2 linked regions of the Homo sapiens genome follow. The protein of the gene in region 1 interacts with the protein of each later gene in a biochemical or structural test. Each region holds a gene or a part of one and is shown on either strand. Other genes may lie near its edges.

Region 1 (7,035 bases):
ACCATGTGGCCTTCACTCTGCCCACAGAAGCTAGCACCAGGACCCTGGTCAGGGTTAGAGGTTTCTGCTGAGTCAAAGCCACATGGAGGGAGGGAGCAAGGGAGAGATGCAGAGTCATGTTTCCAGGAGGAGGTTATCTGAGCATAACAGGGACAGGGTGGGCCACAGGATACCTCTGAGGCTCAGGTTCCCACCTCCACTCCACCCAAGCCTTCAATGATGCTCATGAATCCCCAATAAGAGGAGGTGGGAGAGAACTGAGCGCAAGCAATGGATATTGCTTAACTCAGGGGAACCAATGGCAGGCAGGCAGCTACCTGGGGAGTAGGCAATTCTCAGAAGTCTCTAAAGCAAATGGTAGGACCCTATAGGAAGATAATCCAGGGGAACAGAAGGCAGAAAGCCACCTGCCTCAAGACTCCCAACAACAGAGGGCCACGTGCTCCTACTTGGAGGAGGTAAGGTCCAGAGAAGTCAAGGAACACAGCCAAGGTCATCCAGCCAGTTGACAACCAAGCTAAGAAGCTAAGGATCCTAGGATCATAAAAAGAATGTGTCCTGGCCGGATGCGGTGGCTCATGCCTATAATCCCAACACTTTGGGAGGCCAAAGCGGGTGGATCACAAAGTCAGGAGTTTGAGACCAGCCTGACCAACATGGTGAAACCCCATCTCTGCTAAAAACACAAAAATTAACCAGGTGTGGTGGTGCACGCCTGTAATCCTAGCTACTCAGGAGGCTGAGGCAGAAGAATCACTTGAACCCGGGAGGCAGAGGTTGCAGTGAGCCGAGATCACGCCACTGCACATTCCAGCCTGGGCGACAGAGGGAGACTCCATCTCAAAAAAAAAAAAAAAAAAAAAAAAAAAAAAAAAAAAAAGAATGCGTGTCCTTTGGACACCTCTGGGTTCCCAGGCCAGCTCTGGCTAATGGCCCTGAGCATGTCATTTCCCTTTCTATGCTTCAATCTTTTCACCTGTCTCATGGGATAATGATCCAAGTTTTGCAGTGAGCCTGAAGCACCCAGCTGAATGCCTAGCACACAGCAGGGGTCAAGGAAACAGTGCCCTCTATGTTTGCAGCCCCCGCCCAACTCCAACTCTCTGCTCCACGTTCCTTCCACTATTCAACACATGGCAGGAAGTCAGCCTGTAGGGCTTCACACTACAGTCTAAGCTGACTGCCATCTGTCCCCATCCAGGCGAGGCTGGAAACGGGGGCAGCAAAAAGCCCAGGGACAAAGTCCCCTTCCCAGGCACATGTATTATGCACTCTGCACCAAGGAAACCTCCAGATAAGGTCTAGAGACCAAGGGCCATGTACTTCGGGGGAGAGGCCAGAGGACTTCTGAGGTTTTACAGAGAAAAGCCAAAGGCAGCCCAGTCAGGGGAAATGTGTAGCCATAGTGCCGATAAGGAAAGGCCTTCAACCTGCCCTGGTCAGCTCTTCCTGTAAGTAGAGGCCCCTTACTGAAGGCCCCAGTGGGAGGAAGGGTCGGGAGTATTTGGGGAGAACAGCTAGATACATATAGACACACACACACACACAAATACTGCTCTTGATACGAGTTACTACAACAAGCCAGGTCCTCACTAGCTAGCCCCAAGGGTCGGGGGTATTTGGGGAGAACAGCTAGCTAGATACACACACACATACACACACACACACACACACACACACACACACACACAGAGAACAGCTAGCTAGATACACACACACACACACACACACACACACACACACACACGGCTCTTGATATGAGTTACTACACAAGCCAGGTCCTCACTAGCCAGTCCCAAGGCTTACCCTCAATGACTGCCCAAGACTCAGATGCCCGCTGCATTCTCTAATCCTAACTCCACCAGAAGCCCTGCTTACCCCACATCTAGCCTGAGGTCTCAACACAGGGCCTAGCACCTAACAGGCCCCCACCTATTCTTTCTTTGCCTTTCTTTTGTCCAAGATGCCCCGAAACCCAGCTCTTCCTCTGGGAAACATCCCAGGGAAAACACAAACTTGAGCCAGAGGGGTAGGAGGGATAAGTTTTTTCCCAGTCCAATAGAGCCCATTGCCTGAGCCTCTTCTGCTTGGCAGAATAGAGAGGAGACCATTCACTCCACCCTTTCAACAAACACATGTGACTCTGAGGCACCAGTGAAAATGGCATCTGGGTTTTACAAATGCTACTGTTCCATGAGGGTCTACTATATGTGTCAGGCACTAAAGGGATTTACCAAAGCAACTTCATTAAATCGTTACAGCATTAGGGTCTTTTAGCCCCATTTTACAGATGAGGAAACAGCCTCAGGAAAGAAGAGCTGCTTGCCTAAGGTCATACCAAGAATCAGTTGTGCAGCCAGGGATGGAGCCTAAAACACCCCAGCCCACCAGTAGACATGGGGGGTACCCACAGACGGAGAGAATAGCAGACCAAGAAGGAACTCAAAGAGGCATTGAGAATCAACACCATTTCACAGACGGGAAGACCAAGGCCAAGTGTCACAGCAGTTATGAGTCAGGGCCAGAACTAGAAGGTAGGTCTTCTGACTCCCAGCTCAAAGCTCCTATCAGAGGGCACTTTTCCTTGGTAGATATCAGAGAACCACAGGGAGGATCAGGTCACATTCCCAGCTTCCCCTTCACCCTAGCACAGGACCTCACAACTACTTGTTGGGTCACAGATTCAGAGCCAAAATGGCCTCAAAGATCTAACTCAGACTGGATAACAGATGGTATTAAGGCATTATTAATTCTGTTAGGTGCAGTAATGGCATTTTGATTATGTTAAAAAGAAGAGAGTAAGTCTGTATCTGTCAGAGAAACATACAGAAATATTTATGAATGAAATGATCCAATGTCGGGGTTTTGCTTTAAAAATACTCTTCTTTCAGGGGAGTGAGAAAGAGTGGGCGGGATAGTGATGAAACAAGGCTGGCCACGTATTGACTATTTTGAAGCTGGATGATGGGTACATGAGGGTTCATCATTCTCTCTACTTTTATATAAGTTGAAAAAAAATTCTATGATATAAGAAATTTGTAAAGATCTAGTCTGATAGCCCCCATACACACAGATTGAGGAACAGAGACCCGCAACACACCAGAGATGGGATCTGGGTATAAACCTAGGGGTCATACAGCCCAGGGTGGCAGCAGTATGCTATGGTTAAGAGCATGGGCCTCAGACTAATCTAACCCAGACACTGAATCCCAACTCTACCACTTATTATTTCACTCCAGACAAGTCACCCACCATCTCTGAGCCACTTTTCTCATCTGACAAATGGAAGCAACAGTAGTCCCTACACTCACCTAGCTTAGAGGGGAATCAAAGAGGTTTCCTGTAGCACCTGACAATGTGTCCCAAAGGATATTATTTTCTTTATCATTCTTCTTGCTGTTATTATGCATATTAATCTTGCACCACTACAATGTCTCAAGACCCACGGCTAGAGGTCAGATACCAACTTGAGGCTGGAGCCTAGAGTCCCTAAAAGATTAGCTAGCTCTGCCTCAACCCTGTCTCAGGGGCTATTCCTGATAACTGGGACACAGCTTAGGGGCAGCCCTAGGCCCTTAAGGACTAAGGCAGAGACTCACCTACAGCCCGGAAGAGACAGGCGCCATCCTCCTTCATCTGCTTGATGATGAAGCCCTTCTTGTCTCGTAGGGCCTTTTCAAACCAATGCTCCTGCTGGAGGGAAGAGGTGGGGGTCAGCAACAGGGAAAACCTGTACTCCCTCCCCAGGGCCCCGACCTCAAGCTCCCGAGAGGCCTAGATCATTGACAGAGAGGACGCTGGCCAAGGTAAAGTTCTCAGCCCTGTTTGACCACTCCATGCATGTGAAGTAGGAGACTCTTTTAGGGAATTAGTTGCTGAGTGAAACTAAGACTTACTTCCAAAAGGGTCCTAGGTGCCCTGAGAACAGTGGCCCCATATGCCTTATGGCTTCTGTTGACCTTGCAGGGCCTGGCCCAGGGAGCCACACTGCCTCAGGCAGCCAGAGACTCAGACCCAGCAAGTGCCTGGGTGGAGAATGTGGCTCTACCTCAAGGAGTTTCATCTAGGAAAGGTGGTGAAGAGGGGGTAACTAGCAAGAGCCTAGATCCTGAACCTGACAAAGGGCTAGAGGATTCCAAGATATGCTGTAGGCCGGGCATGGTGGCTCACACCTGTAATCCCAGCACTTTGGGAGGCCAAGGTGGGTGGATCACCTGAGGTCGGGAGTTCGAGACCAGCCTGACCAACATGGAGAAACCCCGTCTCTAATAAAAATACAAAAGTAGTCAGGCGTGGTGGTGCATGCCTGTAATCCCAGCTACATGGGAGGCTTAGGCAGGAGAATCGTTCGAACCCAGGAGGTAAGAGGTTGCGGTGAGCTAAGATCACCCCATTGCGTTCCAGCCTGGGCAACAAGAGCGAAACTCTGTCTCAAAAAAAAAAAAAAGAGATATACTCTAGAAGGCAAAAGTGTGCAAACAATGTTCTCATCTGTGACTGAACACATTTAACAGATATCTACACATATATACATATGTATGTATACAAACACACGTACACAAAATTGGGAAGGCTAGACAGCAAAATATCCCTAAGTCCTGGTGTTATCAGCGATTTTATTGCACTTTCCCTTTTATAAAGTTACACTAAACCCAAAAAGCTTTGAAAATCAAGTCTTTTTTTTTTTTTTTTTTTTTTGAGATGCAGTCTCACTCTTTTGCCCAGGCCGGAGTGCAGTGGCACTATCTCGGCTCACTGCAAGCTCTGCCTCCCGGGTTCATGCCATTCTCCTGCCTCAGCCTCCCGACTAGCTGGGACTACAGGCGCCTGCCACCATGCCTGGCTAATTTTTTGTATTTTTAGTAGAGACGGGGTTTCACCATGTTAGCCAGGATGGTCTCGATCTCCTGATCTCGTGATCCACCCACCTCGGCCTCCCAAAGTGCTGGGATTACAGACATGAGCCACTGTGCCCGGCCCAAAAGTCTTTATCTAATTCATTTGGCATCATAACCTGACCAGAACTGACAAGAATCTATTTATCCCACTTGGGGTAAATATTCAAATATTTCAATGCAGAAAACATTCAGGTGTTTGATTATGAGGTGCTGCCTCAGACCCTGCTGGAGGTGTTATGTAACACAAAGTATACACACCAGGTAAGTTTTATAAATTGTTTTTTTCCTAAATTCCAAAGCACACCTGGCACCACGAAGGTTCAACTTAAATGAACCTGTACAAATGCCTATTTTTTAATTAAAAAAATAATGACCATATAACCTCTTAAAACATAATTTTCATTTCAAAACAAAACCAACCAGAAGCAGCAGACCTTTCCTGGGCCCCTCACGCCCTCTGCTGGCTACCAGAAGCAGCCAGCCTGACCTAGCAACAAGGCTGCAAACTACAGGATCCCAAGCCTGCTCCTTGTGGACACAGGCCTGCCCAGGGATTTATAGGATCTGGGGTATTAGAGACCAGACATAGGGGCCCACCTATCCGTAAGGCCATTTTTCCCCAGCTCAAGCAAGGGGTGGAACCCATCCCCTAAGAAAGCCAGAGGAGAAGCATCTCTGGCAAAGTTGTAAGCACAAGGTTTGGAACGCAAGAGCTCTGGGTTCCAACCCCAGCTTTGCCACACACTTGCTGTCTGTTATCACTCTCAGTTTCCTATAGAATGGGGGATATGTTGATCTACCGGACAGAGCTGTGAGGAGTTTCAGGACCTAAAGAAGCTTTGTAAATAACGTACCATATACTAGGGGAAGTTGTCGCCAATCACAGAAGGGGAGGAGATCAGCACAGAGATTATGCACAACTGAGAGACCCTCAGAAAGTCCCAGGTGAGTAGCGGGACAGGAGGGGAGGAAGAGGTGACAAGGGAATACCCAGCCAGTCCCATCATCAGGGCCCACACCCCAGGAAAATGTGGCTGGATTTCTAGAGATGACAAAGACACCTGGAAGCCCTTAATGAGCTTCCATGCGCAGCACAAGGACTCCTGTTTGTGCACAACATTCCAGTGGTCCAGGTGTCCCTCCTTGCCCCCAAGCCTGTGGATTAACACACTCCAGCCAGTTATGCCCAAGTCCATCCTGGCCACACATGGTCAGCCATCTCCCAGAGTCATGGGCCTGCCCCAGCCAGGGGTCTCCAGCAGGGATGGTGCAACCACAACTATAGTCCCAAACCTGACACAAGAATAGGTTCTTAAAAAGAAGGGAACACAGCGACTTCCTGGCTTTGGAGAGAGGGGAAAAAGAGAGGAGAAAAGGAGATCAAACAGGAGAGGGGCTCCTACTTATCCATTCAAGAAAGACTTACCAGGTAGCTACTAAGTAAGATACTGGGCTGGGCAGTGAGGACAGTGAAATGAATCAGACTTAGTCTCCACTCTTGATAAGCTCACAAACTACTTAGCAGAGGGGTAGGGAAACAGGTAACCACCACAAGGTATGAACAAGGCTGTGAAAAATGTAAATGCCAGGTGTTGTGAAACAGAAAGAGGCTGGGCGAAGTGGCTCTCGCCTGTAATCCCAGCACTTTGGGAGGCCGAGGCAGGTGGATCACTTGAGATCAAGAGTTCAAGACCAGCCTGGCCAACATGGTAAAACCTTGTTTCTACTAAAAAATACAAAAAAAAATTAACTGGGCATGGTGGTGCATGCCTGTAATCCCAGCTAAATCAGGAGGCTGAGGGAGAAGAATCGCTTGAACCTGGGAGACAGAAGTTGCAGTGAGCCGGGATCATACCACTGTATTCTAGCCTAGGCGACAGAGTGAGACTCTGTCTCAAAAAAAAGAAGAAAAGAAAAGAAACACAGTCATTGGGCCAGGCACGGTGGTTCACACCTGTAATCCCAGAACTTTGGGAGGCTGAGGTGGGCGGATCACCTGAGGTCGGGAGTTTGAGACCAGCCTGACCAACATGGAGAAACCCCGTCTCTACTGAAAAATACAAAATTAGCCAGGTGTGGTGGTGCATGCCTGTAATCCCAGCTACTCGGGAGGCTGAGGCAGGAGAATCGCTTGAAC
Region 2 (3,949 bases), on another chromosome or scaffold:
TGCTCAGATTCAAAATGTGTGTTCTACACTGTTACAGGCTTCTCTTTTGTTTGATTAAAGATTTTAGTCCTACTTTTGTATGGACACATTAGAATATTCAGAGACCAAAATAGAAGAATTTGCTGTTAGATATTTTTCAGAAGTCAGCAGATTTGTGGCAAATCATTTATTTGCCTTTTTAAAAATTCATTTAAGCAGTTCAGAGAGTAGACTACTCAGAAAATTATTTCACGTAATTGTCTAAGAGGTCAATATTTTTTAATGCATATTGAATCAAATAAAGTGCTCTAAAGAAATTATTATACAAATTCCTTTGGGTTGTTTTTCTTTTCTTAACAAGGGGTGGGGGTAAACAGGAATATGATTCAGGCTTTCTGGTTGTGTATTTAAAGAGTATTGATTTTATTATTACTATTGATTTACTTTATTCCTGGCTTCCTTTTCACTTTTCTTTCAATTTTTAAAAAATAATTTAAGCCGTTGAAAATATACCAAACTGTTGAAACATTTTACTCAAATTTTAAATTCCTAAAAATGTTTTTTAATAAGAGGGAGAAAATTATTTAAAAATACTTATGCCTATGCCAATTTCCCTCTTTTTTCACAAAATCCATGATTTCAGTTTGTAAGTAGACATATATCTAAGGGCACATTTTTGGAAAGTGAGGAATAGCAGCAGTATAACTTCATTTTGTCAGGCCTTTGAGTTCTAATATTTTGTATTGCTCTTCAAATGGATCCTTTTAAAAAAATTGTAGATAATGAGTCATAAATAGATTCTGCCAACTGAGGGGAGAAACATTTTAAGTAAATATTTTTCAGTATTTGGGGCCTTAAAAAATAATTGTGTTTCCTTAAAATTACATGTTAGATAGAGTTTTTAGGTTTTTTTGGTTTTAAGATTGGTTAAAGCAATTTAAAAGCCACTTTTTTGTCAACATTTAATAGCCTCCACTTCTGTTAAGATAATGTATACTGCTGAGGAATTACTATTAATAGCTATCAACATACCACCATTAAATTAAGGTATTCACTTTAGATTTTTTATTAAAGCTTTTTTCTTGCACACTGATCGTTGTGTTTCTAAGCTGATTTTTTCAGCTCTAATATACCTATGGTTAAAAAGTATAAAAACTTAAATTGATATTTAGATATATGTTTTCCTATTAGTTTATGTTTTAAAAAGACAAAATTGTATCTGTCAGTCCCTGAAGGCAGTTTGTTTTTATACTCTCTCACATTTGTATTTGTTTTTTAAATGGCAGTATTTTAGAAGATTTGGAGAAAAGTCCACATAATAATGTTTTCTTAAAAGCTTTTAAAGTTTTTGCTGTACTTCAATTTACTTCTTCCATCAGAAAACTAAGAACAAAGTGTTGCTCAGTCTGTTCCGCTGACCTAAATTTGTGTTTTCAGCACTTGGCTCAGCCAATTCACTGAGTGAAGGAATTGCTTTATGAGGCAAAGCATGTGAAAGTTCTAAAGTATGGTTAGATTGTAGGTCGTGCTCTATATGGAAACATCAAACCATTACTACAGAGAAATGATAAGGCATTGGATCCACTATTGAAATTATTATTTTTGGATCAACAAGTTGGTACTTTCTGACTTCTGTATCTTAACATAAGGGAATTTTAGGTAATGCTAAGTCAGTTGTCTCATTTTTTGTGATAAGTTTTGGAATTTTTAGTTAATTGAAATAAATAATGCTTTTAAATAGAAGTAAAAGGTTTATAAGTGTGCAAATTGTAGATTTATCAATTACCTCAGCAGGTATCCTGCCATGTAATTATTAGTGATTAGTGTTAATAAGATAATAGATTCAGGTCTTCCAACTATGCCCTTGGATTGTGGCCTACTGTATGTTATTAAATGGTCTCTTACTATCCAAAATGGGAGTAGATGCTGTGGCCCCGTCTCCCTTGGCTTTTACGTCCCATATCCACCCCCATTCATGTACAACATGTGAAATATAAAAATCTCATTTCTTGTCAAAATCAGCACTGCTTATTTGCATACTCAGCATCGGATCAGTGAGTAGTTTTATAAAAAATCCACGCACCCAACTCCCTTAGTTAAAACAGATTCTTAATTCATACCATGAATTCTTAATTTCTGTACCATCTATGTTAATGATCTGCTGAAGGTGACTCAAGATTTTCAAGGTGTAATACAGTTTGATCATGTACCGGACCTGGATATTTAATTTTTTTTCCCTCACAGTTAATCTCCTCCTTGATAAAGCAATAACACTGCTTTGAGTCTGTTGCCTAATAGCATGTCAGAATCCTCTCCTGGATGGTGATTTTATAGGAAAGTTTGTATGCATATCACCCAGTCTATCTTTTAAAAATTAAGAAATTTAAATGTATGCTGGAAGTAATGACACTATATTGTGGCATTTTATTTTAAAAATTGGGGAAAGTTGCATATTTTTTTAAAAGTAAGTGTTTGAGTAAAAAAATTGAAGGTACTTTTTTAAGGAAAAAAATTTATATGCCACAGTTTACATAGACATTTCAGATTCAACACGTACTCTTGAATATAATGGTTTCTTTTACTTGGTCAAAATGCATGTATAGCATTTCTTTCATCTTAGTTCCTTGTGTTTGCCTATGTGGTCCTTTATATATTTTTTATTGTATCGAAGAAACAAAACTATCTTCAAAAATAAGTTAATTTGGATATATTTGTCATATCAAACTACAAAGTGTACAAAGTTAAGTTTAGCCCTTTTCTAGAAAGTGATCTTTAAAATTAAAAATGCTCCTCTTTTAAATTCACCAAATTTATGTGTGGGAAGGCACCAAAATGATTTTGTAAGTGCCACTGCAATATTCCCTTTCAAGTGTGGCCTAAATTTCAATCTTAAGGATGGAATGCATGTCTGCTCCTTGTTCTGAAAAATGTAGGCATCTACTACATTTTAAAACACAGTGAAACATATACATAAGCCTATAAAAAAAGATTTGTGCAATTTGAAAGCCTGTTAATTTTTTATGTAGACATACCTACACACGAAAGGGTTAAATTCACAGCCTTACTAGTTCCTTGCTTCCAGTATTTCAATTGGTCTCCTCCCCTCATTATTATTATTACTACTAGTACTATTATTTTTGCACATAGTTAACTGCCCTTCAATATGATTCTTAAAAAGTGCTGTTTCTGTGGTATCGTATTCTCTAAATAATCATATTTAATTTTTTAAAACAAGGTTGCAGTTTCTAATTGTTTCGTTCCTGTGTTTTTGCTGGTGTGTAATAAAAGCAAGTTTTTTCTTTTCATGGTTATTTAATACATTAGCTGCCTGTAAATAATTCTTGTTATAATGCTCTGGAATGTGTTGTAGAAGTTGTATTAGATTAGTTTTAAACCCTTGTTTGAAAGCCACATTGTTTTGGTTATTTCTATTAAATTAGAAAATTGAAAAAGTTTTCAAATGAATTTCTTTTTTTCTTCTTCTGTGAGTTGAAACTTAATCATAGTTTTAAATCATTTTAAAAATTTACACTGTGTGCCAGGCACCAAAGATACAGTAGTGAACAAGAAGATATAGTCGTTGCCTTCACAGACTTTAGACTCTGTGTTAGAGTAATCAATGTTATGATAGGGATTAACAGAATATAATTGTAATGCGTAGGAAAGGATCTAACCCAAACTTTGTTGCCAGGAAAGCAATTTCTTTCACTCATAAAAGGACAGTGGACAAGGAAAAGAGAGAGTGAAAAGAGAATACAACATGTAGAAGACTGAGTGAGAGAGAACATGTATGTATTCCAGGAACTGAAAAGTTAATTAACTGAAAGTTAATCTGAAACAGTGTAAGTTGGAGTGGTAAAATACTACACTCAAAAATTGAGCAGAGTCCTCTTCAAGCAGAGAGTCTTGTAAGTTATATTAAAGGGTTTGGGAATTACGCTGAGGCCAACAAGGAGTCCTTGAAGAATTT

Evidence for each region. The genes of interacting proteins can lie anywhere in the genome.
Region 2: the proteins of OTUD5 (region 1) and TRIM33 form a complex in vitro, tested with the Homo sapiens proteins (one study listed by BioGRID).

The regions. Positions count from the first base shown.
Region 1 is NC_000023.11:48,940,591-48,947,625, forward strand, and holds part of OTUD5 (OTU domain-containing protein 5), read right to left. Parts: intron 3,694-7,035; coding exon 3,600-3,693; intron 1-3,599. UniProt on the Homo sapiens protein: Deubiquitinating enzyme that functions as a negative regulator of the innate immune system. Has peptidase activity towards 'Lys-48'- and 'Lys-63'-linked polyubiquitin chains. Can also cleave 'Lys-11'-linked ubiquitin chains (in vitro).
Region 2 is NC_000001.11:114,392,272-114,396,220, reverse strand, and holds the end of TRIM33 (E3 ubiquitin-protein ligase TRIM33), read left to right. Parts: 3' UTR 1-3,431; downstream 3,432-3,949. UniProt on the Homo sapiens protein: Acts as an E3 ubiquitin-protein ligase. Promotes SMAD4 ubiquitination, nuclear exclusion and degradation via the ubiquitin proteasome pathway. According to PubMed:16751102, does not promote a decrease in the level of endogenous SMAD4.